Linked DNA regions of Homo sapiens: regions 1, 2, 4, 5 and 6 are each reported to be linked to region 3. Evidence: microRNA targets listed by miRTarBase, many of them from high-throughput screens and not tested one by one. Region 3 holds a microRNA gene; each other region holds the end of a gene's coding sequence. Distances are from middle to middle.

Evidence for each region. Region 3 holds the annotated microRNA hsa-miR-484 (UCAGGCUCAGUCCCCUCCCGAU, at 3,391-3,412, shown strand). A microRNA usually pairs through its seed, bases 2 to 8, with sites in the 3' UTR of a target mRNA and lowers its output. Matches are read on the target gene's strand: a 7mer-m8 pairs with bases 2 to 8, a 7mer-A1 pairs with bases 2 to 7 and ends in A, and an 8mer does both.
Region 1: miRTarBase lists MSTO1 as a target of hsa-miR-484. The part of its 3' UTR that is shown has no 7-base or 8-base seed match.
Region 2: the mRNA of UTP14C is a reported target of hsa-miR-484. Seed matches in the 3' UTR shown: 7mer-A1 at 3,537-3,543.
Region 4: miRTarBase lists GINS3 as a target of hsa-miR-484. Seed matches in the 3' UTR shown: 7mer-A1 at 4,169-4,175.
Region 5: miRTarBase lists CMPK1 as a target of hsa-miR-484. Seed matches in the 3' UTR shown: 7mer-m8 at 1,386-1,392.
Region 6: the mRNA of SETD1B is a reported target of hsa-miR-484. The part of its 3' UTR that is shown has no 7-base or 8-base seed match.

What each region holds. Positions count from the first base shown.
Region 1 is chr1:155,613,460-155,618,459 of GRCh38, forward strand. It overlaps MSTO1 (misato mitochondrial distribution and morphology regulator 1), which reads left to right. Exons shown (of 14, transcript NM_018116.4): 12 at 3-107; 13 at 198-307; 14 at 600-1,492. The coding sequence ends at 814. It also overlaps the pseudogene LOC100419798. Among named protein-coding and RNA genes, the nearest start is that of MSTO1, 5.7 kb to the left of the region's middle.
Region 2 is chr13:52,030,478-52,035,566 of GRCh38, reverse strand. It overlaps UTP14C (UTP14C small subunit processome component), which reads right to left. Exons shown (of 2, transcript NM_021645.6): 2 at 1,967-5,089. The coding sequence ends at 4,462. It overlaps ALG11 (ALG11 alpha-1,2-mannosyltransferase), which reads right to left. Exons shown (of 4, transcript NM_001004127.3): 4 at 1,967-5,089. NEK5 (NIMA related kinase 5) reads left to right here. Exons shown (of 24, transcript NM_001365552.1): 24 at 1-1,956. Among named protein-coding and RNA genes, the nearest start is that of UTP14C, 8.3 kb to the right of the region's middle.
Region 3 is chr16:15,639,911-15,644,999 of GRCh38, forward strand. It overlaps MIR484 (microRNA 484), which reads left to right and starts at 3,384; the gene lies at 3,384-3,462. It overlaps MARF1 (meiosis regulator and mRNA stability factor 1), which reads right to left and starts at 3,244. Exons shown (of 27, transcript NM_014647.4): 1 at 3,108-3,244. It also overlaps a transcript of NDE1 not described here.
Region 4 is chr16:58,404,300-58,409,382 of GRCh38, reverse strand. GINS3 (GINS complex subunit 3) reads right to left here. Exons shown (of 3, transcript NM_022770.4): 3 at 3,236-4,884. The coding sequence ends at 4,654. Among named protein-coding and RNA genes, the nearest start is that of GINS3, 14 kb to the right of the region's middle.
Region 5 is chr1:47,376,000-47,381,088 of GRCh38, forward strand. CMPK1 (cytidine/uridine monophosphate kinase 1) reads left to right here. Exons shown (of 6, transcript NM_016308.3): 6 at 705-2,840. The coding sequence ends at 746. LINC01389 (long intergenic non-protein coding RNA 1389) reads right to left here. Exons shown (of 5, transcript NR_126355.1): 5 at 4,797-5,089. Among named protein-coding and RNA genes, the nearest start is that of FOXE3, 38 kb to the right of the region's middle.
Region 6 is chr12:121,829,949-121,835,032 of GRCh38, forward strand. It overlaps SETD1B (SET domain containing 1B, histone lysine methyltransferase), which reads left to right. Exons shown (of 17, transcript NM_001353345.2): 17 at 118-2,708. The coding sequence ends at 291. Among named protein-coding and RNA genes, the nearest start is that of TIALD, 24 kb to the right of the region's middle.

The sequences.
Region 1 (5,000 bases), not on the chromosome of region 3:
AGCCAGCTCACCCCAGGGACACCTCCACCCTCTGCCCTTCATGCATGTACCACTGGGGAAGAAATCTTGGCTCAGTATTTACAACAGCAGCAGCCTGGAGTCATGAGGTCAGTGTAACGGTTGCTCCTGCCCTTCTTGCCAACCGCAACCCTCCCTTGACTTCTTACGCACTTAATGGCTGTTCTCTGCCCCCACAGTTCTTCCCATCTGCTGCTGACTCCCTGCAGGGTGGCTCCTCCTTACCCCCACCTCTTCTCAAGCTGCAGTCCACCGGGTATGGTTCTGGATGGTTCCCCCAAGGGAGCAGGTATGTAGGAGGTGAAGAAAACTGAGATTTCAAGTATGGGAGAGTTTTTACTATCTCCATTCCTGGATTAAAAGTGCTGAAAAAGTCCACAGTTAAACATTCCTTTATTCACCCTATGGCTCCCAAGAAAAGCATTCTTCCTCTGGAGTACTGGTGTACTAAGGGGACAATACACCAAATTTGTTGAGTTTACAATCAAGTCTACTAAGGTTGGACTTCCTTATCAGTTTGGCAGAGTCCCAGGGCAGAATAATCATCCATCTACAGGTCTCTGTTTCCTCTCCCTCCACAGCAGTGGAGAGCATCCCAGTGTTTGGGGCACTGTGTTCCTCTTCGTCCCTGCACCAGACCCTGGAAGCCTTGGCCAGAGACCTCACCAAACTCGACTTGCGGCGCTGGGCCAGCTTCATGGATGCTGGAGTGGAGCACGATGACGTAGCAGAGCTGCTGCAGGAGCTACAAAGCCTGGCCCAGTGCTACCAGGGTGGTGACAGCCTCGTGGACTAAAGTTCCCAGTGTGGGAGAAAGGAGCTAGTTTGCAATAAAAACAGCTGGATGCAGGAGCCCAGTGTCTTCATGCAGAGGAGCTCAATGTCGCGGGACTAGCTACACCAACATATGCACTTTTTACATTTAGAAACACTGTGATTAGACCACAGAACAATAAATATGTGCCATCAGACCAAAAAAAAGTAGAGAAAGGAGCTGAACTCCACTCTCGATGCTACTTACAGAGGACATCTGTAAAGTCTTCATAAAAGACCTTGAATGATGCCTAGGATGGCAGAGCCCCTGGGTCCTACTCCATCCTCCAGCCTTTGTCCTTGTCCTGGCCTCCTGCTCTCCAGATCTGTAAACTGGGCTCAAGGACTGTACAAGCAGAGTACAACTACCCGCCTCCCCGGTGCCAGGGCGCCTGTTGGGTTTGGTCCTGTGTAGATGATTCCCAGAGTCTCATTCATCCAGCTCCTCTTCAGACAGAAGGTCCCCATGGTCAGACAGCTGGTCTGCATTGCTGGTACTGGTTGCATCATCCTCATCCTCAGAGCTGGCTTCACAGGCAGTGTGGAAGAGCTGCATGAGTTCTCGAAAATGGTGGGAAACCTAAGAAAGGAGGAGGGCTGTATTCACTGATCCTTAGTAACATGTTAACATTTATGAAGCACTATATATTGATTTGCAAAATCTTTTGTTTATTCCACACAGCAAGGTTGAGAGAGCTATGTCACTATAGATAAGGAAACTCAAGAGGCTAAATGTTTTGCCCAAAGTCACACGACTCCTAAAAACAAAACTAGAATGGCCGGGCACAGTGGCTCACACCTGTAATCCCAGCACTTTGGGAGGCCGAGGCAGGTAGATCACTTGAGGTCAGGAGTTCGAGACCAGCCTGGCCAACATGGTGAAGCCCTATCTCTACTAAAAATAGAAAAATTGGCTGGGTGGTGGGCACCTGTAATCCCAGCCACTCGAGAGGCTGAGGCAGGAGAATTGCTTGAACCTGGGACGTGGAGGTTGCAGTGAGCCACGATCATGCCACTGCACTCCAGCCTGGGCGACAGAGCAAGACTCTGGCTCAAAAAAAAAAAAAAAGCTAGAATGGAAACGGGCTTCCACCTAAAAATGCAGTGTCCTTTCTCTTCTCCTAGAACCACTACCACCCTGATGAGTCAAGCCTTTCCTTAGATCAAACCTTTACAAAAACCACTTATCTTGGATATGAAAACTCCTTCTTTGGCCTTTCTGTCTCTTAGTTGGCCACCTTGACCTCTTTTTGCCAGGTCTTCACCCCAACCCGCACCTACCTCAGCAGGGGTCTTATTTCCCAGCTGCTGGGAGATGATGCTGAAGGTCTGTGGCTGTGCCCCTTGCTCCTGGCACATGGTGAGGATCACACGGTCAGCTTCCCTGTAACCCAGGTATCATGATTAACCCTAGGGAGCCACATGGATGTGGTCTATGCTCTTTTCCAAACACACATCATCCACCCTTACCTACCTTGTCCACAGGACAACCTTTTCCCCAGTGGAGCTGACCTTGCTGTTATTGGCACACACCGTAGCTTCTGTGGCCTTTGGCTGCTGTTCCCCCTCTGGACCCTTGCCCTGTGTTCCACTGTCTTTAGCCAAACCCCCTCTAGGGGCTTTGGGAGAAGTCTCTGAGGTGTCAATTCCTGATGGAGATTCATGGACAGGGCACGTCCTGTCTCTTGTCTTCACCCTAGCTCTGCTTGAGGGCAGCCATCTCTCTTGAGTGTCTGGTTTCCCGGACACATGTCTTCTCCCTGCATCTCTGGTCTTTGAGGAAACAGGACTCAGGAAGGAAGCAGGGGGTTCCACGGTACCAGGCAATTTCTCAGTTTCTGATGCATCCCAGACCAGCATCAAAGCCTCTGACTCACTCACTGCCTTTTGGCCCTCCCTCTCTTTCTGAAGTCTGGGGGATGCCTTGGGGCAGGAGCGAACCTCAGGCCCAACCTGGTTTCTCTTAACAGTGTACAGTACAGCTCCAGTTGTGGGGGGAAATTGAGGAGTCTCTGGTGAATGAGGTGGTGGGCCATCCAGGAGGAGCCGTTCTGTAAGAGTCACTTCTCGAGGGGATGGCAAAGTGCCCCCCACTGCCAATCCTGCTTAGGAGGAAAATAAGGATCCCAGGGTACTGTGAGGATCAAGATGCACCTAAGCACGAGAAATTACCTGTGGCCAGGTACTGTGCAAAAATTCTAATAAAAAAGAGTGCTGGGCATGGTGGCTCACACCTATAACGTCCGCACTTTGGGAAGCCAAAGTGGTGGGACTGCCAGGAGTTTGAGACTAGCCTGGGCAATATGGTGAGACCCCATCTCTGCAAGAAAATATAAATAATAAAGGAGTTGGGTGGAGATGGTGGGCATAATGTCACTTATGCAAAGATATAAAGTCCTACTGCCAAAGCTGAGAACGGCCCAGTCTTTAGGATGTAGATTACACTAGATTTAGAGATGGGGGAAGGGTTTTAGGAATAAAACACAAGACAATGTTGAATCATGTGAAATTTGTAGCACTTTTTTTTTTTTTTTTGAGAGATTTTTGGTCTTGTTGCCCAGGCTGGAGTACAGTAGCGTGATCTCAGGTCATGGCAACCTCCGCCTCCGGGGTTCAAGGGATTCTCCTGCCTCAGCCTCCCAAGTAGGTGGGATTATAGGTGCCCACCACCGGGCCCAGCTATTTTTTTTTTTTTTTGTATTTTTAATAGAGATGGGGTTTCACCATGTTGGCCAGGCTGGTCTTGAATTCCTGACCTCAGGTGATCCACCCACCTCGGCCTCCCAAAGTGTTGGGATTACAGGCGTGAGCCACTGCGCCCGGCCACACACTCTTAATTCTGCAAGAGGAGTGAGGCCATAGGATAGAAAAAGCCTGAACAGGAGAAGGGCTTCTTATGGGTCCATCAGTGAAAGAGGTGGTATGTCCATCCCTGAAAAGGGTGTTATTTATCCAGGCTCATGGAGGTTCCTGTCTGGGGTATAGAAGAACGAGACTGAAAAACAGAAGGGCTGGGTTGGCAGATCACTCACCTGAAATAGGCATCTCTCTTTCTGGTGGTCCTGACAGTCCTGTTCTGGGTGGCTTCATGGGGCTCCTTGCTCTTGTAGGATTTGCTGTCACAGACCCACAGGGATGATCTTCTGGGTCAAAGGTGTCCTGACCGCCTATGCCTTTGGGGCCCACCAAAGGAAGAAGCCCTGCCTGATGCTCACCAAGTCAACCCACATGCATATCTGCTCCAACAATTTTGTTTTTTTAAGAGAAAGGGTTTCAGTTGGGTGCAATGGTACATGCCTGTAAACCCAGCTACTTGGGAGGCTGAGGTGTGAGGATCACTTGAGCCCAAGGGTTCAAGATCAGCCTGGGCAACATAGCGAGACCCTGTCTCAAAAAGAAACAAACAAAAAGAGGCCAGGTGTGGTGGCTTACACCTGTAATCCCAGTACTTTGGAGGCCGAGGGCAGGGATCACTTGAGGTCAGGAGTTCCAGATTAGCCTAGTGAACATGGTGAAACCCCATCTCTACTAAAAATACAAAAATTAGCGGAATGTTGTGGCGGGGGCCTGTAGTCTCAGCTACTTGGGAAGCTGAGGCATGAGAATTGCTTGAACCCAGGAGGCAGAGGTTACAGTGAGCTGAGATTGTGCCACTACACTCCAGGCTGGACGAAAGTGAGACTCCACCTCAAAAAAAAAAAAAAAAAGAGACAAGGTCTCACAGATAACACAAATTATCTTGCCCAGGTTGGAGTGCAGTGCCTGTTTACACAGGTATGACCATAGTGGTACACTATAGCCTCAGACTCCTGGGCTCAAGTAGTGATCTTCTGGTGTGAGCCTCCTGAGTGCCCCTTTGCCTAGCTACTGCTCCAAAGATTTTATTTTGTTTTATTTATTTATGTATTTATTTATATATTTATTTTTTTAGCTGGAGTTTCGCTCATGTTGCACAGGCTGGAGTGCAACGGTGCGATCTCCACTCACCGCAACCTCTGCCTCCCAGGTTCAAGCGATTCTCCTGCCTCAGCCTCCCGAGTAGCTGGGATTACAGGCATGCACCACCATGCCCAGCTAATTTTGTATTTTTAATAGAGACAGGGTTTCTCCATGTTGTTCAGGCTGGTCTCCAACTCCCAACCTCAGGTGATCTGCCTCCCAAAGTGTTC
Region 2 (5,089 bases), not on the chromosome of region 3:
TGATCATAACAATTCCAACGTTGAACATGGCCTGGAGCTTAACAGATGTTTATTTAAATACTAAGGAGTATGTCTGGGCTTAGGAAGGAGAGGGTGGTTACATTTCAGGGTGGTAGAATTCTGCCTGAAATATCTGCTTTATAATAAAAGTAAAATGTCTCACCGATACACTGTTAAACTGAGAAAACAAAGATGAGGTAAGGTGGGTCAGATTATTTCTAAGGTCTGTTTACTATTTACATTTCATATAATTTTCATTAAATGTGGAGAATGCAAGTCTTAGGAGTCACCTGAGGTACATCCAGTTTTTTGTGACTATTTCCTGATGTTTGACAGACTGTTCTTTCAACTTGGTGTAGAGTTACAGTCTACTCTTTTAGGGAGAATGCTGTTTGTTCACATCATGAGGCTGTAAATATTTAAAATGTTCTCACCATTGTGTTAGTTTCCAACTGACACATGGCCTGAGAGATTGGAGTATCATTAATTCTGCAACTCTTTTAGTGCTCCGGATGTGCATGTTTATTTACTTTCAGGACTAGTTCAGACATAGTAAAACTGCTAGTGACTTCATGTAATCCTTATTCTGAACTGTATTTGAAAGCAAGGGAAATGAAACATGATCCCTAATAACCTCAAACATCCAAAGATCAAGTCAATTAAGGGCAAAAAAAAAAAAAAAAAAGAAAAAAAAGAATGTTTAAGGATGGTAAATGAACACGCCAGGTGTGGTGGCGCATGCCTGTAATCCCAACACTTTGAGAGGCTGAGGCAGGAGGATCGCTTGAGCCCAGGAGTTTGAGACCAGCCTGGGCAACATAGGGAAACACCCATCTCTATCCACCCCTCAGAAAAAAAAAAAAAAAAAAAAGAATTAGCTGGTGTGTTGGTGTGCACCTCTGGTCCCAGCTCTTCAGGAGGCTGAGGCGGGAGGATCACTTTAGTTTCAGCCTGGGAGGTTGAGGCTACAGTGAGCCATAATCCGTGATCACATCACTGCACTCCACCTTGAGTGACAGAGTAAGAAAGACCCTGTCTCAAAAAAAAAAAAAAAAAAAAAAAGCATGTCAGGTTATCGGGTTTGTTCCCATGATAAAAGATGCTTGGCTAAAGTCTAGTCTATTTTAGGTAATAGTCACCAAGCTTTACTCAACAATTTTGAATTCTTTGCTGTAAACTGGAAGTATTCACTGTGATAAGTATACATATCTGCAACACTTTCAGCTGATTTTAGTCCCTAATTCTAGACCTTACCCATTTTACACACACTATTAGCTAAATCGTGTTCCTGAGGCATGGCTCTGATTACTTTACTCTGGCTTTAGCCTTGGCCTCATCCGTTAAATTGAAACTGTTCACCAGACCTGTATGCATTAAAAATTTTTTTATTAGAAAAATCAGTGTCTTGCTAGCCATGTATGATAGCTATCAAATTGATCATTCTGTAAATGGTAGCAATAAGTGTATCAACACTTTGACCTCCTCTGTGTCTAGTAACATTTGCATATAGTACAACTGAGCACATAGCACCAGAATATTGGAACAGATGCTTCTCCAAAGCCAAGGGTTGCCTTACATTTAGAGTGGGAAAAGAGGAAAATGAGTTAGCAGAGGAGCAGCGGGGAGGGGGGTAAATTACAGGACATAATTTGCTTCTAAAAATTTGTGTTTCGTGTTGTAGTTATATAATTAACTTTTCTATTGTACTGATTGACAGATTTGGCACAGACATCCTCTCATTGTGAATATATATGAATATATCAGAGTTTTGGACTCTGGGGTATATTTACATAAACACAAGTATTCTGAAAGCATTGATAACCACACTGGTGTCTCTTAATTTTGTCTATAAGATGACCTTATAAAATCCCTCAAGAATTATTTAAATCAAGTGTACGAAGCTCTGCAGTTTTTTGTTATGTCTGAAATATTCATTAAAAAGTTTATTAAACCTGACAGCCTCTTCTTAATGTTTCACAAGCAAGACAAACTTTTATTTTTGTTTCTTCTTTAATTGGCATATGGAGCTTGGGAATATTAGTAGGAGAACAAGGAGACTATGTGAGGCATATAAAAGGCACCACACTGGAAAGAATCCAAGAGAATGAAAAATCACTTCTTTAAATAATATTTAGACACAGACTTTGTATCTATATTAGATATAAATCATGTCTAAATACAAATCTAAATAATATTTACAAATAATTATTACACAAAACCTATGTAACACACACTTTATAGTACACAACTGTAAATAAGAATACAAATCTCCACTGCTGTGGGTTCAAAACAGCAGGCTTGGACCACTCAAAAATGACATCTGAGAGGAATTAATAGTCATCCTGAAAGTTCTGCAGACAGACGCTAGCGGACAAACCACTTTGACACTTTTCATGCTATCATTCAGAAAAAAATAGAATACATGTAATACCAAATTAGGAACACTGATAATGAACATATATGCAAATTATATCTTCCAATGATATATCTGTGATATATGAAAATAATTTTGAAGAAATAAGCTTAAAATATAATTTACGGAATTCCAGAAAACTTTTTCTTCCTTCACTACATCCTCAGGAATAAGGCAATTGAGTGGATAACAGTTTGAATCTTACTTCAAAGTGTAGCTACAAAGTAAGAAAAAGCACTGGGCCAGGAGTCAGAATATCCAGGTTATAATCTTGATTCTTTCATGAAACAGCTTTGTGACACTGAAGGAATCTACTAAATTCTTTAGATTTAAATTGTTCTTGTCTGTAAAGCTGAAAATAAGAGAGAACTGGGCTAATCTGTAGGGTTCCTTTCACTCCAATTTCTACCAGTCTTTTTCTAAATGGGATCATCTCTAACAAAAAGTTACAATGGTGTGTCAGAACATCCTGTGACTGACCCTCTGTTTGCTGCTTTTTGATCTGATGACAGATGGCTTGGAGATGTATCAACAACATAATTGGGAGTAGATAAGCTGGCCACATTGATGAATGACTGAGAGGAGACTGCAAAGAAATAATATACCGTTTCATTTGCCCCTTAACACAAAGATGAATCAGCCTGTGGATGGGGTCAATTCACTGAACTAGAAAGGATTGATTATATATGCATAAAGTGCAAAAGCTATAGGTCTTTATAGCCATATCTGCTCACACATATATTCACTTTTCCATGCTAGTTATTCAGGATAGAAGGTGCATTAAATTTATACCAATTCCTAGCTACTGGCCTAGTAACTAACAATCTACAGAGTTGTAATGCATTAATAAATATAGGATTATAGAAGACATTTAGTATGTGATGTTACCTTTAAGTAACTCTCATAATTTTCTTTTTCCTTTTTTTCTTTTTTGAGATGGAGTTTTGCTTATTGCCCAGGCTAGAGTGCAGTGGCACAATCTTGGCTCACTGCAACCTCTGCCTTCCAGTTTCAAGCAATTCTCCTGCCTCAGTCTCCCAAGTAGCTGGGATTACAGGTGCCTGCCACCAGGCCCAGCTAATTTTTTTGTATTTTTAGTACAGACAGGGTTTCACCATGTTGTTCAGGCTGGTCTCAACTGCTGACCTCATGATCCACCCATCTCGGCCTCCCAAAGTGCTGGGATTACAGGTGTGAGACACCGCACCCAGCCCTTAACTGTCGTAATTTTCAAAGTAGTTTCATCTACTTTCCATCTCATTCCAACTCTAAAAGGTAGTAAGGACTGGAATTAACAACTCCAGATTACAGATGAAGAATCTGAGACTCAGAAAGATAAAGGAGCAGCTTTAGTGTCAAAAGGTCAGAAGTTTGTAAATGAAGAAGCTGAAGGTAGGCCCAGATGTGCTAACTGCTTGCCCAGCGCTCTTTCAAAATGCCACCTTGCCATCTTACAATGCATTATGCTGGTAATAGATACCCTGTGGATGTATCTGTATATCATATCATCACTGTCAGAAAAACAGCCTGAGGTTCTCTTGAATGACTTAAAGCTGACTTCCAGGCTGAGATGCGGCACTGTTAAGGGACAATGAGAGACCCACACAAATGTGCTGACAGCATAAACAAAAACAATTTTCACCAGTACCTAGTATGGAAAGGATTGCTGGCAGCACCTTGGCCTCTACCACCCTACACACACCTATAAAGCATCAGTCAGTCCCACCTCTTGACTGTATGCTTTGAGAACACGATTAAACAAGTCTGTTTAAAATTTCTTTTTTAAGGAAATCATTAGGTATATTCAAAAGGGTCATCCACTGTATTGTTTAGAATTTAAATGTACTAGAATTTTTCTGTGTTCTAATGTCTGATCAATTCTAAAATGCTAGTCAATTAATGGTCATCCATTTTCTTTTTTTAAAAAATGTGGCTCAACTACATGCAATGTGCTGAGCCAGTTTTGGAATCCACCCTGTAGCAGAGTAAAACTGGACCAAAGGAAGTGGAATCAGGGCCCCTGACTGTCACTTCTCCAGCTACACAACCTACAGTTTTTCTTCTTTATTGTGACGTGTGGTGATTCGTTTTGGATTCCTCTGTATGACAGGCAGGTCTGACCTTGAGGAAGACTGGTAGCCCACATCCTCTGCTTTTATGGGCTTAATGATATGGCCTGGCTTGGTGACGACCTTGGGAGTAGTCAGCTTTTGGAAAGCCCTCTGGGTGTTCCATGTGGATCCTATAGGGGTCTGGATGGTCCTTTCAAATTGCCGATGGTGGGTAAATGGATATGGAAGCACTTGTACCTGATGAGCTGCTGCGTGGATGTTGCGCTTCTCACTGATAATCACATTTGGCAAATTCTTATCTTTTCTTGGAGGACCCTCAGGGGCTTTAATGAGAAACTGGCGTCTTTTCTTGGCACTGGGCTTTAGGCCCACACCACCCCACTCGCCCCAGCCAGGTAGTGTCAGGTCCACGTCCTTTGGCTTACTCGCCTCCACAGCTTCCCTCTTCTCTTTCAAGAAATCTCTGATGACATCATCCCCAGCAAAAGCTTCCTTTATCATCTGCCTTTGGTCTCTCTCCTCTTCATCTTCCAGCTCCTCTATTATTGTGGGAACTGCCAAAGACCTCACGGAAGGAGACTGTGTGGTCAGGAAGTTCTGTAGG
Region 3 (5,089 bases):
TCCATGAGTCTTGTTTCCTTTCCACATGTAACCATGTTTGAGAGAGGTAGCCATATCTTGGAAACTTGCATATTCCAGAGTGAGACTTCACCTCCTCACTTGGCTGGAATCAATTTTTTCTACAGTTTTTCTGAATTCTTTTCGGCTCTCTCTCCCTAAAGATGCTGCTCAGGAAAGTCAAAAGTTAACAGAAGAGAGCATCTAATCTGAGTAAAAGAGCCACCACCACATCCTCATTGACAACTATATGTAAGATTTTAAAATTGACTTAAGAGCAACTTCTTGCACTGGTTTCTTGATCTGAGCATGAAAAGTCCAAACTAAGTGGCCTCTGTGGACTTTGAATTTGATTTGCTACAGAACAAATTGAACCAATTTCTTAGTTTACTAATGATGAAAGTGCAATCTGATATACCACCAAAAATCTAACTGATAGAAAAATCTCAAGTCGCAGATGTGTTATATCTACGCCAGAGCAACAACACTCTTACAGGTCTTAACAATAAATGCAAGCGAGGCACCGTGGCTCAGGCCTGCAATCCCAGCACTTTGGGAGGCCAAGGTGGGTGGATTGCTTGAGCCCAGGAGTTCCCAACCAGCCTGGGCAACATGGCAAAACCCCATGGCTACAAAAAATTAGCTGAGCGTGGTGGTGCATGCCTGTAGCCCCATCTACTCAGGAGGCTATGGTGGAAGAATCACCTAAGACTGCGTAGTCAAGGCTGCAGTGAGCTGTGATTGCACCACTGCACTGCAGCCTGGGCGACGGAGTGAGACCCTGTCTCAAAAACCAACAAACAAAATTACATGAAATTAAAATGTCAGTGTCCATAAATAAAGTTTAATTGGGACACAGACACACTCATTCACTTAAATACTGCCTATGACTGCTTTTGCATTCCAATTGCAGAGTTGCAAAGAGAGTCTCTGCAAAGAGACTGTATGGCCCACAAAGCCTATATTTACTACGTGGCTCTTTTGTCAGCCTGGGCAATATAGCAAGATCACAGCTCTAAAATAAAATAAAGTTCAAAAAATTAGCATAGTGTGGCAGCATGCGCCTAGTCCCAGCTACTAGAGAGACTGAGGTAGGAGGATCTCTTGAGCCCAAGAATTTGAGGCTACAGTGAACTATATTGTGCCACTGGCCCTTCAGCGTGGGCAACAGAGTGAGATTCCATCTCTAAAAAAATTTTTGTTTTCAAGTTTCTGTTTCCTCCTATGCAAAATGTGGCTAATTTCTCCCCGCCACTGCATTACAGAGAAAAAAAAAATTAGATAAATGAACCCCACTGTCTATTTTCACCACTGTATCTCTTGTGCCAACCAAAATGCTCCCTACTCTGTAAATACAAAGTAAACATTACCTACTACACACTATTGGGAGTGGTTAATTTGGAGATGGATTTAACTGCTACCACTGATAGTAAATTACGATTCTTGTCTTTCCTATTAGATACAGGTTTTATGTCCCCCAAAAAACTCCTCTCAAAATCGTAAGAATCTGTGATATTCACAGTGTTCATAACTTAAACATTCTCTCAAACTTCTTCAAAGCCAAATCCTGAAAGTGAGCTAACATTCACAGTATAATCTAGTTTATAAAGTATTTTCACTTAACATTACTTATGTCTTCATTCAGCAAATATTTACTTAGTATCTACTATGCAGCAGGCCTGTGCTTGGCACAAGGAATATAATGATGAAAAAAACCCAGACGGTGGGATCCTCTTATATAATTTTTGCAATAATCCTGTGAAATAGACAGGGGAGAAATTAGCTACATTTTTGCAGAGAGAGAAAAAGAAACTTAATGAAGTTTTGTAGCGAGCCTGACACAAGATTAGGCTTGTTCACCCCTTTCCACTACATCAAGGTGCCTTCAATACTGCTCAATACAAGCGATTAAAAGTAAAAACTTTCAGGTGCCTGCACCCTGAAAACTTCCCAAATACCATCCACGAAGCAACTTAGGTAGCCAAAAGCAGGTTCTGTTTGACTTGAGCGACAGTCTCCTTTCTGTCACTCTCTTCAAGTCTTTTGACCAATTCAATGAGGAGAGCATAGGCTCTGTCGACTGTCTGCATTTTGGTCTCCAATTTGACTGCGGTGCAGCTTTGGACAACTCACAACCTCTCTGAACCTCAGATCCCATCTCTAAAATGGGTGTGATAATAATAGAAACCACCTTACAAGGCCGTTGTTTGGATTACATGAGGTAATCCACGGGGAACATTTAGCAAATGTTGTTTCCTTAGCACCCAATCTAGTCTTTGACCCCACACCACCCCATCCCATTACCGTTTTCTCCCCCATAGCTCTTCTGTCCAAAACGGCCTTTTTAGCTTATTTTATTATCTTTCTCCCCCATTAGGCTATAAACTCCATGACAGCAGAGACTATGTTTTCTTATCCACTATTCCAACTCCTGTCCTTAGTACAATGCCTGGCATATTTTAATAAATAACTGTTGAACGAATAAAGCTTAATAAATAGGAAAACAGTTTAGGTTTCAATACACCGATATGCAAAAGAGAAGAATATTTACCGCTCAGAGAAGTCCAAAAGACACAAATGCAATTGGACAGCTCTTGGTAATACCGGAAAGGTGCTTGAGAAACTCTAAAAGGTGTATCACGAGGTCGCGTTACAACTACTAGTGAGAGTGGCTGAAGCCCTAGACATTGTCAACCCTGAGACTACACCCTATGTGTTGCTAAAAGGCCGAGGAGAATGCAAAACGGCCGGGGAGGGGGGAGTGTGTTGCAAAAACACCCGCCCCTTTCCTTCTCTCTTAACCTTCCAGCTGTGCACTTCACTCCTGGAGGGCCCCACCAGGGGTCAGACAGGGGCGGGCGGGGAGCCAAATGCCCTCGAAGGGGAACAGCGGCGCCAACAGTGACAGTAGTGAATGGACCCGAAAGGGAGACAAGCCAACTCTTTCGTGGGGGGCCCAACTGGCGCGTCCCAGTTAGCTAACCTCCCCTCTCCACCACCATCCCACCAGCAATAGGCGGGGAAAGAGGGGACACTGTCCTCCGTCCCGCCCCGCTGGCCTCGGAGCAGAGCCTGCCGGGGTCTGGTCGCAGGACTGTCTGCAAACTCACCTCTGCCGCCGGCTCCACCTCCGCTCACATTCCGGCCCCGCCGCCTTCCCCCCGCCCCCCCCAGGCCCTTTGTTTTGATTCCCGACTCCGCAGCTCCCGCCGCCGCCGCCAAGCGCACCCTTCACTTCCGCTTCCGCACCGCACCGCCCCTGTCGCAAAACCGACGCCCTTCTCTCCTCTTCGCCCCGCCCCTTCCTCGCCCCGCCTCCGCCGCCGCGTCCTGTCCGCGCGGGGCATGCTGGGAACCCCGGGGGGGGCGGGGCCTCGCGGCCCTGCAGCCTCGTCAGGCTCAGTCCCCTCCCGATAAACCCCTAAATAGGGACTTTCCCGGGGGGTGACCCTGGCTTTTTTGGCGAAAACCCCCAGTTTAAGGAGGCCTTCCCCCTGGCTTCACGTTGTGGAGTCGAAAGGAACCTTGAAGCGGAGAATGAGCTCGTGACGTGGACCCGAGGAAAAAACCTGCCAACCAGGATTTAATAGAATTCAGCTCTTTCAGGCTTTGGAGGGAAGGCGATTTGAACGGGATTTCAATGAAAAACCCTGTCCCTTCGGCTTTTTTTTTTTCCTCTCTCGGGTCTCGTCACGTGATGGTCCTACTTTATTTTTAAAAATTAAATGGCGCATATTCCCCAGCATCCTAAATCTAGTGCAACCTAGTGGCAAGTGGAGAAAAAAATAACTGCCAACCTGGCTTCCTACGAGGTCCCCCGGAGTTCTCGCAAAGTTGCGACCCAGTTGGCAAAAATACAGTGTGTGCAAAGACTCAACTGGACATTGCCACCAAGAATCAAGAGATTTTTGGGGACTTTAGCAAGAAAACGTTATTTTTAAAAGCCCTGCTCCAAAGCTGGTTACAAATGAATACTGCGTTTCCAGTGACAGGTTGGGCGAGCAGAAAGGAAATCTTACGGTTAGTTTCAAACACTTTGTGTTTTAGGTGGCCAGATATGCTGTGTGGTTTGCTTTAAAAAAAAAAATAGCGCCCCACAATCTTCACGTTTCCCTGGAATAAAAAAAAATTTAAGACTCAGCAAAAGGGTGATTTCTGAAACTACCAGCTGATTACTATTTTCTGTTGCAAATTAGGAAAAAAGCAAAGCACATATTGTGTAAGTTAAATCTAGACACGATTTAGGATGTGCTAGCTGCTAGCTAAATGCTACCTTAGGAGTTTATTTTTAAAGTTTGCCCAGAAACAAGTTGACTTTGCAAAAGAATCAGTAAGTCGAAATTGCCAAACGAGAATATTTTGCCCAAAAAAATCCTTACTGGGAGGTTATTTCAATAGGCAATCCCCATTACGTGGGGATTAACACATCCCTGTAAACATCCCTGTAGACGGGTATTGTGGAGGGCAGGATCAGACATGTAGCTGAAGAATCCTTTGTGCCTGTATTTAATTTTCCAGAAGGCAGATGACAAGCACACATCCTCTCCCTGCGTAGGTATTTATTACTGCTGACTAAATCTTGACTGTGGGCTGGGCGCAGTGGCTCAGGCCTGTATTCCCAATACTTTGAGAGGCTACGGAGGGAGGATCTCTTGAGCCTACAAATTTGAGACTAGACTGGGAAACGGTGAAACCCTATCACTATTTAGAAAAGAAAGAAAAAGAAAAAAATCTTCATTATGTCTGTGTATAGGTAGTATTTTCCAAGTGGAGATTAGAATAGATGAAAAACCCGTTTCTAGCGTTTTGGCTTTTTTCAAAGTACCAAACAAATACGCTACTCTTCAGAGGTGTTTTTTCCCCATTTTATTTCAGTTGAGTATGTTTCAACACAAGCCATATTAACTAAAAATCTTAAGAAACAAGGTAATTGTAGGTTTCTAATTGCTTTTTTTAAAAAATAGTTTTTAGCCAGAAAACATCAAAGAATGCAGACACATTTCCTTTTTACTTTTTTTTTTTTTTTTTTTGAGACAAAGTCTTGCTTCATTGCCCAGGCTGGAGTGCAGTGGCAGGATCTTGGCTCACTGCA
Region 4 (5,083 bases), 43 Mb from region 3:
TTTTTCCAGACTTGTCCTTGATTCACTGTACATTTTATTTGTTACTATTAAGGATGAGAAATTTTCTCCTCCTCATTCAAAAGGATAATATCAAGAGTTAGCAAAACACACACACACACACACACACACACACACACACACACACACACACAGATTTAGCAACAGAATTCCAGCTTTCAGATACCTTTCCTTAGGTTTAGAACATTTACTTAATTATCTTTCAAACAACTGTTTCTATGTGTACTCAATATTAAAAATTTATCGGCCAGGCACAGTGGCTCATGCCTGTAATCCGAGCACTCTGGGACGACAAGGCAGGTGGACTGATTGAGCTCAGGAGTTTGAGACCAGACTGGACTACATACTGAGACCTCGTCTCTACAAAAAATACAAAAATTAGCCAGGCATGGTGGCACATGCCTGTAATCCCAGTTACTTGGGGGGCTGAGGTGGGAGGATTGTTTAAGCCTGGGAGGTCAAGGCTGCAGTGAGCTGTGATTGGGCCACTGCACTCCAGCTTGGGTGGCAAAGTGAGACCTTGTCTCAAAAATAAAATAAAATGACCTAAAAATCTGCCTTCACTAGATAAGGAATGTTTAAATTATATTTCTTAGACTAGTTCTTACAGTTGGCCTGGTGTGGTGGCTCATGCCTGTAATCCCAGCACTTTGGGAGGCCGAGGCGGGTGGATTACGAGGTCAGGAGATCGAGACCATCCTGGCTAACATGGTGAAACCTTGTCTCTATTAAAAATACAAAAATTAGCTGGACGTGGTGGCACACACCTGTAATCCCAGCTACTCAGGAGGCTGAAGCAGGAGAACTGCTTGAACCCGGAGGCAGAAGTTGCAGTGAGCTGGGATCGCGCCCCTGCACTCCAGCCTTGGTGACAGAGCAAGCTCTGTCTCAAAAAAAAAAAAAAAAAAAAAAAAAAAAAAAAAATTCTTACAGTTAAGCATCTACCTTACATTTTATAGATTTTTCTCCTGAACACAAAAATATCTGTTTGAGAAATATATATATGGCCTCTGCAGTTATTTTCTTTTGCCAAGCTCAGTTTAAAATATTACATTTTCACGTAGACACAATTGTTTCGAGCATAAAGAACAAAAGCTCTCTTGGGGCCGGGCGCGGTGGCTCACGCCTGTAATCCCAGCACTTTGGGAGGCCGAGGCGGGTGGATCACGAGGTCAGGAGATCGGGACCATCCTGGCTAACACGGTGAAACCCCGTCTCCACTAAAAATACAAAAAATTAGCAGGGTGGGGTGGCGGGCGCCTGTAGTCCCAGCTACTCGGGAGGCTGAGGCAGGAGAATGGCGTGAACCTGTGAGGCGGAGCTTGCAGTGAGCCGAGATCGCGCCACTGCACTCCAGCCTGGGCCACAGAGCGACTCCATCTCAAAAAAAAAAAAAAAAAGCTCTCTTGGGGTTTCTTGAAGGATGGGAGGGGGACAGAACAGACAGACACAGAGTGGAACTGACTGCTGTTTGAACTTGAGTCACTCAGTGCTTCTGCATGCCGGTTTCACTAGTTCAGGCACAGTATTCCAGAAACCTCGGGTTCAGAGGTGCTGAGAGGTTAGTGAGAAGCTCTGTAAGATGCTCAGAATTCTTAGGGAGAAGGTGGACTTTTTATTTAAAATAAGAAACAAATTATTTCTGCCATGCAAGCAATAAAGAAATTCAACATCAGATTAGCAGGGTAAAGATGACTTTTTTTTTTTTTTTTTGAGACAGAGTCTTGCTCTGTCACCAAGGCTGGAGTGCAGAGGTGTGATCTCAGCTCACTGCAACCTCTGTCCCCTGGGTTCAAGTGATTTCCTGCCTCAGCCTCCCGAGTAGCTGGGATTACAGGCGCCCACCATCATGCCTGGTTAATTTTTGTATTTCCAGTAGAGACAGGTTTCACTGTTGGCCCTTCTGGTCTCAAACTTCTGACCTCAAGTTATCCACCTGCCTCGACCTCCCGAAGTGCTGGGATTACAGGCATGAGCCACCGCACCGGGCCCAAAGATTAGTTTTTAACAAAGTGTGCTGGGATAACTGACTATCCTTTTTCTCTGAGATGGGAGGGTCTTGAGCAGAGAATCGACAAGATTGGATATACTTCTTAACAAGAGCACTCTGGCTGCTATGGTGAGAAGAGTCTGAAGATGGAGTGGAGGGTGAATGCAGGGAGGCAGTTAGGGGGTGATCCCAAAACTCCAGGAAAGAAACGGTAGGGGCCTGGCCCGAGTGACAGCACCACAGGTGATGGGGAGGTGGCCGGATGCTGCAAATGATTTGACGGCAGACCCAAAAGATATGGAGCGTGAGAGGAGGAAGGTCAGGGGGGGACATAGCGTTTTTGTTCTAAGCAATAGGGAAGGATGGAGTTGTAAAAAATGGAGATGGGAAACATCAGAGGAGGAGCAGGCCGTGGAGACGTAGAAACATCAAGCAGGGGATTGGATACAAGTCTGGAGTTGGAGGGAGCGATCTGAGCTGGAGATAGGAATTTGGGAGCCATCTGCGTGGAGATGGAGAGGCATGGACAGCCCAGAGCCACCCAAATCCAGAGGTCACGAACAGCAGGAGGAATCAACAGTGACAGAGCCTTGCCCCACTGCTCCTGGCAGCCCACACTGTCCCTGGGAAAAACCTATATATACTGAGGTCTTCTGTCTGTAAGGCCACAGTCATGTGGGAACAGAGTGCTTCAGGGGAAAGGGCACAGCTTTACTCCCTGGAGTTTGATAGCAATTTGGTATTTGAGCCCATTTGTTGTGTTTTTTGAAAAATTAACCTCTTGAAGGGACCAAATCAAAATCTAAACGACTAACTGGAGGGCTGCTGGGGAGAGGGGAAGTCCGACAGGCTTGAAGGCAGATCTGTAATTGAAAATGAGTTCAAAAGCTACATGTAATATAATCTGTTCAAAATGTAAAATAGGGGCTAAGTTTTGGACATGAATACCTACATATTCCTGACACATGGCCCCTGAGGAATTTCTTTTTTTTAGGAAGTAGGAAAAAATGGCAGCAGACTTAGAGTTGACTTTAAATATAAAGCTATGTGTGAAAAGAATGATGCCAAAAGTTAAATAATATGCTTTTCTCGCTCTATGAATGGTTTCTCGGGCCCTGGCTATATATAAATGCTGCGGTAGTAATGGAAATCTCATCTTCCTAGGACACAGCACCCTCCTACAGAGAATGTACCTCCTATTTATGTGTACCACACAAGCAAAAGAGCAGCTGCTAAAACATGGATTTGTGTATTACCGTCAAATATGATCAAAGACACAATTCTGATAGCTTTGATTATCTGTAGTACTAGTGAAAGAGCACTTGTACAGAACATATTCATGTACAAAGCCAATCATTTATTTAGCACTAAAATCAAATTATAAAAACAACAATTCCATCTTAAAACAGGCATTTTAAAAGCATTTCTGTGGTTCTAAGTTTGCATCAAGACAGCCTAAGTTTGCATCTGCACAATCTGGATACCCAAATCCCTCTATAATTTCCAAAGACAAAGACAATTTTTGCTAGTTGTGAGGTGTCAGGGGGAAGCAGTGATGCCCTGCAAACAGTCTAATGGGCCCAGGGAACCCTGTTTCTTTCTCAACCTGAGGTTGCATCCTTGATCTCCAGGAAAAGAGATTAGTGCTTGCTTAACCAGGTTCCTAGTAAATGGTCAGGGATCTTCTATGCAATAATGTTGCAAAAGTTACTGAAGAGGAAAAAAAAAGCACAACGGAGGCTTCTTGCCCATTTACACTTGCAATGTTAGATTTTGAAAACAGGGCCCTTCATAGTCAGCACCCAAGTCCTGACTTCCAGATGTAATGCAGGCTGGTTAACAGCCCTTAATAACTACATTGCAATTCCAAACGACTCCCTGACAGCTTTTCTAGACAGGGAGTAGAATTAAGTGTGCGGGTGCTCTTAGGCTCTCCGAGGCAATAACAAGCTCAGTTTAACCATTTCCCTTCTGGGTTGACTGCTGAGTTATGCAGATTCCAGTTCATTAAGCCCTGAGTATAGAGTATGAGGCCAACATCTTTTCTTTAGTAAAAGCCATGCCATTCGTCTGCCTTTCCCTTTTCCTCCTTTATCTGGGCGACTGTTTTTGGAAACTGGGGTAACTCCCTGCAGGCAGGCAGCAGGAGATATCTCCAAGTCAGGCTGGCATGGTGGGGTGCTATCCTCTGTACAACCATGAGGAAGATGAGGCAAATAAGATCAAGAGAGCATTTTGTGAACAGGCGATGACCCAGTTTGTACCTGTGCTTTGTGGCTAGTGAAACTGTACATCTGAAGCTGTCCAAACTCCCAGACACAAGGAATCTCAGTTGCAACTCTACTGTGATATATTATATGGCAGTGATTCTTATTTAGGAAGGACTTTGATTTCTCCTTGGCCATGGGTTCTTGGGTTAAAGGGCCTGGGCTGTGGGTCAGCAGGGTGGGACGGTCCTGGAAGACTCACAGAGCCAGGGACACCCACATCCTCCAGCATGTCCAGTTCCCTATAATTCTCTATGGCCACAGGAAATAAGCCATGAAATGGGACAGGATTCTGGTTCTGTACAAGGTCAACCAGCTCCTATCAAGGACACACGGAGGGATACGTCTGTGAGGAGCCATTCTGTGTTCTTCCGGCTTTCAGTCTTCCATATCAGTGAATTTTCTCTTCTTGTAATTCTGAACGAGGTTGGAAGCTGTGATCTGAGAAGCCTGCCCCTTCTCCCAACACTGAAAGTCATTCAGTCCTTTCTGCCCTGTTTGAAATAAGCCCCTCTCCATCTCGTCTAGCCTGGCTACCAGGGCTGAAGTGTCTTCGTTGTAAGCATTCTGTGAGGAGTCCATGATGCGGCGAAAACGTCCGATAAAAGTCTGGGAAACAAGGGAGTAAGACAAGTCAGGGTTGACCTCACACCCCACAAAGTCATATCCATTTTTATCTCAGAACATTTAAATGGCATGAAAAGAAAGAATGATGTGTAGGACTCAGAAGGAGGTCTGAATTCCCTCTAGCACCCAAGTAAGTTATTGCACATTGCCATGCCTCAATTTCCTCATCTGTGAAGTGGAT
Region 5 (5,089 bases), not on the chromosome of region 3:
CTGTGTTTTAGAATCAGAACTAAGAAGATAAGCCACTTCAGTTATATTTTATATTTTATTTTACATTTTATTTACAGTTTATATTTTATCAAATTATTGGTAGCCTCTCAAGAATATTTTGTCCTAAAAGCACTAATCGAATGTAATATAGTCATAATTTTATATGTATTATTTATATAATATTACTGTCTAAAGTAAAATAGATGAAACTAAGTATGTGATTCAAAAAAATGATTCATTTTGAAAATTAATGTAAATTTGATTTTTTTGTGTGTGACCCTGTTTGGAGATGGAGTCTTTATTTTTTATATTATTTTATTTATATATATTTTTTGAGACAGTGTCTCACTCTGTTGCCCAGGCTGGAGTGCAATGGTGTGATCTCAGCTCACTGCAACCTCCGTCTCCTGGGTTCAAGTAATTCTCCTGCCTCAGCCTCCTGGGTAGCTGGGATTACAGGTGCCCGCCACCACGCCTGGCTGATTTTTGTATTTTTAGTAGAGACGGGGTTTTGCCATGTTGGCCAGGCTGGTCTTGAACTCCTGAACTCAAGTGATCTGCCCGCCTCGACCTCCCAAAGTGCTGGGATTACAGATGTGAGCCACCGCGCCCCGCCAAATTTGATTATTTTTAATAAGAACTTAGCTGTATGGTATTTTAACAGTACCTGCTTTTAAAATTATTATCATCTTTTTCCTTTACAGGTTTTTGATGAAGTTGTGCAGATTTTTGACAAGGAAGGCTAATTCTAAACCTGAAGGCATCCTTGAAATCATGCTTGAATATTGCTTTGATAGCTGCTATCATGACCCCTTTTTAAGGCAATTCTAATCTTTCATAACTACATCTCAATTAGTGGCTGGAAAGTACATGGTAAAACAAAGTAAATTTTTTTATGTTCTTTTTTTTGGTCACAGGAGTAGACAGTGAATTCAGGTTTAACTTCACCTTAGTTATGGTGCTCACCAAACGAAGGGTATCAGCTATTTTTTTTAAAATTCAAAAAGAATATCCCTTTTATAGTTTGTGCCTTCTGTGAGCAAAACTTTTTAGTACGCGTATATATCCCTCTAGTAATCACAACATTTTAGGATTTAGGGATACCCGCTTCCTCTTTTTCTTGCAAGTTTTAAATTTCCAACCTTAAGTGAATTTGTGGACCAAATTTCAAAGGAACTTTTTGTGTAGTCAGTTCTTGCACAATGTGTTTGGTAAACAAACTCAAAATGGATTCTTAGGAGCATTTTAGTGTTTATTAAATAACTGACCATTTGCTGTAGAAAGATGAGAAAACTTAAGCTTTGTTTTACTACAACTTGTACAAAGTTGTATGACAGGGCATATTCTTTGCTTCCAAGATTTGGGTTGGGGGCACTAGGGGTTCAGAGCCTGGCAGAATTGTCAGCTTTAGTCTGACATAATCTAAGGGTATGGGGCAAGGATCACATCTAATGCTTGTGTTCCTTATACTCTATTATATAGTGTTATTCATGATTCAGCTGATCTTAACAAAATTCGTAGCAGTGGAACCTTGAAATGCATGTGGCTAGATTTATGCTAAAATGATTCTCAGTTAGCATTTTAGTAACACTTCAAAGGTTTTTTTTTGTTTGTTTTCTAGACTTAATAAAAGCTTAGGATTAATTAGAAGAAGCAATCTAGTTAAATTTCCCATTTGTATTTTATTTTCTTGAATACTTTTTTCATAGTTATTTGTTTAAAAAGATTTAAAAATCATTGCACTTTGGTCAGAAAAATAATAAATATATCTTATAAATGTTTGATTCCCTTCCTTGCTATTTTTATTCAGTAGATTTTTGTTTGGCATCATGTTGAAGCACCGAAAGATAAATGATTTTTAAAAGGCTATAGAGTCCAAAGGAATATTCTTTTACACCAATTCTTCCTTTAAAAATCTCTGAGGAATTTGTTTTCGCCTTACTTTTTTTTCTTCTGTCACAATGCTAAGTGGTATCCGAGGTTCTTAATATGAGATTTAAAATCTTAAAATGTTTCTTATTTTCAGCACTTACATCATTTGGTACACAGGGTCAAATAGGGCAAATAATTTTGTCTTTGTATAATAGATTTGATATTTAAAGTCACTGGAAATAGGACAAGTTAATGGATGTTTTTATATTTTAATAGAATCATTTATTTCTATGTGTTATGAAATTCACTTAATGATAAATTTTTCAACATACTTGCCATTAGAAAACAAAGTATTGCTAAGTACTATAACATATTGGCCACTAAAATTCATATTGAGATTATCTTGGTTTCTTGGAAGAGATAGGAATGAGTTCTTATCTAGTGTTGCAGGCCAGCAAATACAGAGGTGGTTTAATCAAACAGCTCTAGTATGAAGCAAGAGTAAAGACTAAGGTTTCGAGAGCATTCCTACTCACATAAGTGAAGAAATCTGTCAGATAGGAATCTAAATATTTATAGTGAGATTGTGAAAGCAACCTTAAAGTTTTGAAGAAGACTGATGAGACTAGGTGCTTTGCTTCCTTTCATCAGGTATCTTTCTGTGGCATTTGAGAACAGAAACCAAGAAACATGGTAATTACTAAATTATGAGGCTTTGCTTTTTGTTTGCTTTTAAGTAGAAAAACATGTTGGCAACATTGAGTTTTGGAGTTGATTGAGATAATATGACTTAACTAGTTTTGTCATTCCATTTGTTAAAGATACAGTCACCAAGAATGTTTTGAGTTTTTTGAAAGACCCCAATTTAAGCCTTGCTTATTTTTAAATTATTTCCATTCAGTGATGTTGGATGTATATCAGTTATTTAGTAAATAATCTCAATAAATTTTGTGCTGTGGCCTTTGCTATTTGTTGGTTTAGATTTCTGTTCTCTAAGCATATTGAAGATCAAGAAGTATCCTATTTAACATGTGGGTCCTCACACTACAAAAGCAGAGTTCAGGACTGTCGATGCAAAGAGTCAAACTCTGTAAAATATTTGAAGAGATTTATTCTAAGCCAAATATGAGTGATGAGTGGCTTGTGACACAGCCCTTAGGAGATCCTGAGAACAAGTGCATACAGTGGTCGGTGTGCAGCTTGTTTTTATACATTTTAGGGAGACATGAGACATCAGACAATACATGTAAGATGTATACATGGTTCAGTCCAGAAAGGTGGGACAACTGGAAGCAGGTGTGGGGAAAGCTTCCAAGCCTTAGGCAGATTTAAAGATTTTCTGATTGGCAATTGGTTGAAAGAGTTACTATAAATAGAAAGGAACGTCTAGGTTGATACAAGGTTTGTTGGAGACCAAGGTTTTATCATGCAGATGAAGCCTTCAGGTAGCAGGCTTCAGAGAAAATAGACTGTAAATGCTTCTTATTAAGAGTGTGTTCTATCAGTAATTTCAAAAGGGAGGAGAAGTATAATGAGGCATGTCTGGCTCTCCCTTCCCCATGATGGCCTGAAACTGGTTTTTCAGATGAACTCTGGAATGCCCTTGGCCTAGAGGAAGGGTCCATTCAGATGGTTGTGGGGGCGCTTAGAATTTTATTTTTGCTTTACAGGATTGAGGAAAATTTTTCATCCTGTTTTTGTGTTTTGGCTTAAGCAGAAAGCATGATTTTATCCCGTTCCTTCAAGAAGTAATCTCCACTGAGACAAAAGCAGTCTATTTCATTACCTACCAGCAGCATCAATCACTTATCTCTTTTGGGGGAAGATGACAGTAAGCAATGTATATCAGGATGTGGGCTTTTTGTGGACTTTTGGCTTTACTCTTGTAATTTAAGTGGTTCACAAACATTCCAGTGGTCCCTGGAGATAATAGTGGCTGAAAGTACTGGCCAGATGAGGTCAGCATCTTCTCCCCGGAGGTTTGGTTGTCATCTTCAAACACATACTAATTGCACAAGCAAATAGTGCTACAAACACTTTTTCTGGCCGGGCGCGGTGGCTCATGCCTGTAATCCCCAGCACTTTGGGAGGCCGAGGCGGGTGGATCATGAGGTCAGGAGTTTGAGACCAGCCTGACCAACATGGTGAAACCCTGTCTCTACTAAAATTACAAAAAAGTAGCTGGGCATGGTGGTGGGCGCCTGTAGTCCCAGCTACTCAGGAGGCTGAGGCAGGAGAATGGCGTGAACCCGTGGGCGGAGCTTGCAGTGAGCTGAGACTGCGCCACTGCACACCAGCCTGGGCGACAGAGCGAGACTCCGTCTCAAACAAACAAAAAAAACAAAACAAAAAAATATATTTTCTGCCTTCCAGGAGGTGTTTTTTTTTTTTTTTTTTTTTTTTTTTTCCGAAAACATTCTGATATAGACCGACCTTCCAGTGTCTTCTGTTGGTTAACTTTAATCATTCTTATGTTTTCTATTTCAGTTCTCCCTAGCCCACCTGCATACTTCAGCTAAATTAAGTATTCGTTAATTATACACATTTATTTATTTCTTATTTTTTATTTTTTTTGAGACGGAGTCTCGCTCTGTCGCCCAGGCTGGAGGGCAGTGGCGCGATTTCGGCTCATTGCAACCTCCGCCTCCCGGGTTCACGCCATTCTCCTGCCTCAGCCCCCCGACTAGCTGGGACTACAGGCGCCCGCCACCACGCCCGGCTAATTTTTTGTATTTTTAGTAGAGTCAGGGTTTCACCGTGTTAGCCAGGATGGTCTCGATCTCCTGACCTCGTGATCCGTCCGCCTCGGCTTCCCAAAGTGCTGGGATTACAGGCGTGAGCCACCGCGCCCGGCCTAAACATTTATTTTTAATGAAAGAAAGGAAGCTCATTTATTTTGTACCAAAGAGAAAGGAAAACAATGATCCTAATCACTTACTCCTTTATTTCCTCATCCCTGAAGCCAGTGTAAATACTCTCTTGGATTCAGGTATGCTTTTCTTTGGCTGGGTGTAGTTACTGTGTTTGTGATGTTACTCTTGGACCTCAGATAAGCCTGGAAGGTCACCATCTTTCCTGTTGTGCAGAGAGCTGATGGACAAAGTTGAATTTCTGGCTGCCGCCATATACCTGATGTCAACTGTACCATATCTAGATTATCACTCAGGCCCACACCTTTATGGGAATGCCTTTATGGGAGTTCATCAGAGCAGAACCT
Region 6 (5,084 bases), not on the chromosome of region 3:
TGGGGGTCACGTGGCATGTCAGGCCTTAAGCACAGGCCTGGTTGGGTTTGGGGGGTCTGCAGTGGTGGGGGACCCTGGGGGACCAGGGGCTCATTCTCCCCCCCACCTTGCCTGCAGCCCAACTGCTATGCCAAGGTGATCACGGTGGAGTCACAGAAGAAGATAGTCATCTACTCGAAGCAGCACATTAACGTCAATGAGGAGATTACCTATGACTATAAGTTCCCCATCGAGGACGTCAAGATCCCCTGCCTCTGTGGCTCCGAGAACTGCCGGGGGACCCTCAACTAGGCCCCGGCACCAGACTCAAAGGATGTCAGCCGTAGCCCTGGGACTCCCGAGCGTGGAGCCCCTGGCCCCGGGGCCCGGCCCCCCGCGCCCGCCCCCATTTCAGGTGCTGTCCTCTACCCAGCGGCCATTCAGGGCCTGGCGCCCCACACTACCCCCTGGAGCCCCTGGCTCCGGCCCCTCCGCGGGAAAGGGCTTCTCTGTCGTTCAGCCCACGTCTCTCTCATTTTAACAAACGCCCCTTTCAGGATTTCTGTTTAACTCCAGCATCAGCTTCTCTCTCTCCGTCTCTCCTCCCCTCTCTCTCTTCTCTGTCTCTTCTCTCTCCCACCATCACCCTCGGCCTCTTCCTGTGAATGCTGCTACGTTGTTTTGTCTTCTCTATTTTTTTCCTCGTTGTGAGAAAAGACATTTAACCGTTGAAATGTGAAGGTGGAATCAGAGAGGGGCCCCGCGGGGGTCTGCAGAGGCCTCAGTGTGGCTGTGCGTGGCCCGTGTCCTGGAAGCCACCCGGACCTGGACGCAGGGCCAGGTGCTGTGGGAAGGATGGAGGCCCCCACGGCCTTGACCTCAGAACACTACGCCCTGAAAGCGCCCCTCACTGCCCGTGGGCACAGTGAGGAGACCCCACACCTTTCCCCACCCGAGCTGCAGCCTGTTCCTTCCCCAGAGGCCTGGGGCACCACTGACCCGGTGGACCCTGATGGAGCTAAGCTGTCCCAGGCAGGGGTCTCCGCTCTGGGCTTTCCCTGCCACCTCACACCCCAGCACCCCCTAAACCTTGGGTTCAATGTTTACTTTCTCATTCGGATGCCAGCAACGCGGGAGCCTCTCGGAGGCCCCAGTGCAGGTGAGGGGCGCTGAGAACGCGGGCAGCCACTCTCTTCTGCCCTTGCCTTCGCCCTGGGTGGGACAGGGCTCCCAAGGGCAGGCGGGTCCCCCAGTCCCGCCATTACGGGTTGTCAGACCGTCTGCGTGTGGCATTTTTTGGCTTATAAGCTTCACCCACTCACCCCCAACCCACACCCCACATCCCCCTGCCGGCAGCCCCTCAACCTAAGAAGGCCAGAGCATATTTATTTTCGGAGGGAGCAGATTACTTCTCCCAGAGAAAGGAAAATCTTGGAAAAGATTTAAAAACACAAATCTAAGCCTTGACGGTTTTTTTTTCCCTTTTGACCCCCTTCCCATCTCTTCAGAATTTATTCCCATGGCTTTTTTTTTTCTTGTGCGTGTATAAAATCAAAAGGAAGGGGAAAAAGGTTTTTGAAGTTCAGAACCAACTTCTGTATATAGAGGCTGCCGCAAAGGACTTTCTCTTGGGAACATTGTTTCTTGTAGAAACATGCGGGAAGACATTTTTTGCTCATTTCTTTGTACTTCCAAAAAAAAAGGAAAAAAAAGACAAAAGCAAGTCCCCCCGTACCCCAGAAAGCAGAGGAGGCGTGTAAATAATTTCTGGAAAGTGACTGTTGTGACCCGGAGTCCTCATCAAGATGAGCGCGCTCCATGAGGGAGCTGCTCCCACCCTGCGGACGCAGGCGGCCGGAGCCTCTGGTATCTCAGCTTGTGTCAAGCTTGTTATCATGTAAATTCTGTACAAAGAATTGTTATTTTTCTCTTTTTTGTTGTTGGTGGTTTTGTTGTGTGTTTTTTGTTGTTTTTTTTTTATTCCTTTCCCCCAGGCCCTCTCTATTTGAGACTGTGCCCGCCGGTTTCAAGATCAAGGAAATTGGTGGCAACAAGACACAGATGGGGTACCTGGGCACAGCGGCGAACTTCTCTTCCGTTTGCGGTTTTCTGCCTAATTGTGCAACTGAGGAAATAATTTATTTTTCACATGAGGAAATGCGTAGCTTGTAGAGACGGCTGATTCAAGTTACATGTACAGCCTCCAAAGGGCTGTCTCCATTCTGTCCCCTTCCCATAAAAGAAGTGGGGGTGTTCGAGAAGACCAGGGAAGGGACCCTTGCCTCACCCCTCCCCCTGGCCTCACCTTGCTCCCAGCCATCGTGCCCAGTGTTAACCTCGGCTGGCCTTCACTAAGGGGACTAGACCTCCCTCTCCCCAGGAGCCCCAGCCCCAGAGTGGTTTGCAATAATCAAGATATGTGTCGAGTCATTTTTCTTTCAACTCCCTCATTTTTCATTGAACAAATCTCTGCTTTTCAAGAGTTGGGGGTTTCTGCTATTTTTTGCTTTCTCTCCCTCCCCCTGCAAAGATGAGAACCAATGAGTTTTAGGGATGTTTGTGCGGGTAGACTCCATCATCCATATGTAACTTGTTTTGAAGAGAAGTGTTTCCGTTGTGTGTCTTGATGTAAATATTTGTTCATATTTTTGTGAATTCAATACTATGTACCATTGTATTATAGTAACTTTTATAAAGCAAACCATAAATATACTGACTTTTCTTACAGATACGCCGTCTCTCTTGCTCTCCTCTCTCCCTCTCCTCTTTATTCTTTCTTTCTGTTGGGAGCACATCCTGCTTCTGTGGAGGGTGGAGTGGTCCACTCAGACACTCAGATCAGCAGGGGTTTTTTTGTTTGTTTTTGAGACAGGGTCTCACTCTGTCACCTCAGGCTGGAGTGCAGTGGTGCAATCATGGCTCACTGCAGCCTTGACTTCCTGGGCTCAAGTGATCCTCCCACCTCAGCCTCCTGAGTAGCTGGGACTACAGGAGCACACCACCATGCCCAGCTAATTTTTAAGAAATTTTTCTGTAGAGACGGGGTCTCCCTATGTTGCCCAGGCTGGTTTCAAACTCCTGGGCTCAAGCAATCCTCCCACCTCAGCCTCCCAAAGTAGTGGGATTACAGATGTGAGCCACCGTGCCCAGCCTGAACTTGTAGGTGGGTTTTGTGAAATGGGCCAAATTATAGTCACCACTAGACCTTCCACAGCTTTTAAGTGTGATTTCTAGATTTTTTTCTTAAAACCTCAGGTTTCTGACTCATGAGGTCTGCAATGAAGGAAATAAGATCAGGTATCCTTTTACTATCACTAGAAGAACGTAGGTGGTTCCTCAGAAATGTTTAACACTTAAGGAGATGCCCCCCTGGTCTGCATTTGAGGGAGGAAAAAGGGCTGATAAAATAGTAGAAGTTGAGAAGAATTAAATCTATCCTGTATTCATGGCATTTCAGAGATGCTGTGCCCCAGTCAGTCTCAGCTCTGCTTGACCCAGTAGACGGGTGATAAAGGGCTTATAGTTGGCGTCCACGGTAAATGTCTCCAAGAAGACGTAAAACCTTAGCAAAAAGCAATATGCCTGAAAAGACGCTGTACGTCACTTCCTACTGGAGAAATGTGAATTATCCCAGGATGCCGTTTCCCCCTGTCAGGTTGGCAAATATTAAAAGGTGGAGGAAACCCAATTTGAGGGAGCAGGAGGCTGGGGTACTCTCGTGTGTCATTAGGGGAAGCCAAAAATCACTGCAACCTTTAGGAGGAAAAATACCTATTAGTAATCATTATTTAAAATGCACACGGCCGGCACGGTGGCTCACGCCTGTGATCCCAGCACTTTGGGAGGCCTAGGAGGGCAGATCACCTGAGGTCAGGAGTTCGAGCTAGCCTAGCCAACATGGTAAAACCCCATCTCTATTAAAAATACAAAAAAATTAGCCGAGTGTGGTGGTGCACGCCTGTAATCCCAGATACTTGGGAGGCTGAGGTGGGAGAATCGCTTGAACCCAGAAGGTGGAGGTTGCAGGGAGCCGAGATCATGCCACTGCACTCCAGCCTGGGCGACAGAGTGAGACCTCGTCTCAAAATAAAATGATCAAATGCACACAAAAGTCTTGGCTCCGTTGTTCCACTGTGAGGAATTGAGCCTGACAGATACAGTGGGCAACAATATGAAGAAGAGTGTTCTTCGCAGCCTCATTTCTGGTATCAACGAAACGAAGGGAGAGTAAATTGTCCGTTCACAGTGGGCTGCTTTTAGGAATTGTGCATCCAGACAGGTGGACACTCCCGTAAGTGGATTCATGGGAATAGAGGGCTGAGGTCCGGGCTGAGCCAGGAAAGAGAAGGAAGTGTCTGGCCATTAATTCAATCAACCAATATTTATTGAGCACCTTGTATGTGCCAGGTACTCTTCTAGGCTCTGGGGATAGGAATGAAGGAAACATACTGTTCTTGAGGGCGAGCCAGACAAATGTGAAAAGTAAGTGCAATAGTAAGGAGGAATAAAGCTAAGAGAAGGGGGTGTAGCTGAAGGAATATACAATTTTACCTTTATTATTTATTTTAGAGACAAGGTCTAGTTCTGTCACCCAGGCTGGAGTGCAGTGGCATGATCATAGCTCACTGCAGCCTCGATCTGCTGAGCTCAATGATCCCCCCACTTCAACCTCCTAAGCTGATCAGGGCCATAGGCACACTTTACCATACCAGCTAATTTTAAAAATTTCTTTTCTTTTTTTTTTTCTTGAGACAGAGTTTTGCTCTTGTTGCCCAGGCTAGAGTGCAATGGTACAATCTCGGCTCACTGCAACCTCCACCTGCCGAGTTCAAGCAATTCTCCTGCCTCAGCTTCCTGAGTAGGGATTACAGGGATTACTAGGATTACAGGCATGTGCCACCAAGCCCAGCTAATTTTGTATTTTTAGTAGAGATGGGATTTCTCCATGTTAAGCATGCTGGTCTCGAACTCCTGACCTCAGGGGATGTGCCCTCCTCGGCCTCCCAAAGTGCTGGGATTATAGGTGTAAGCCACCGCGCCAGGGCTTTTTCTTTCTTTCTTTTCTTTCTTTCTTTCTTTCTTTCTTTCTTTCTTTCTTTCTTTTT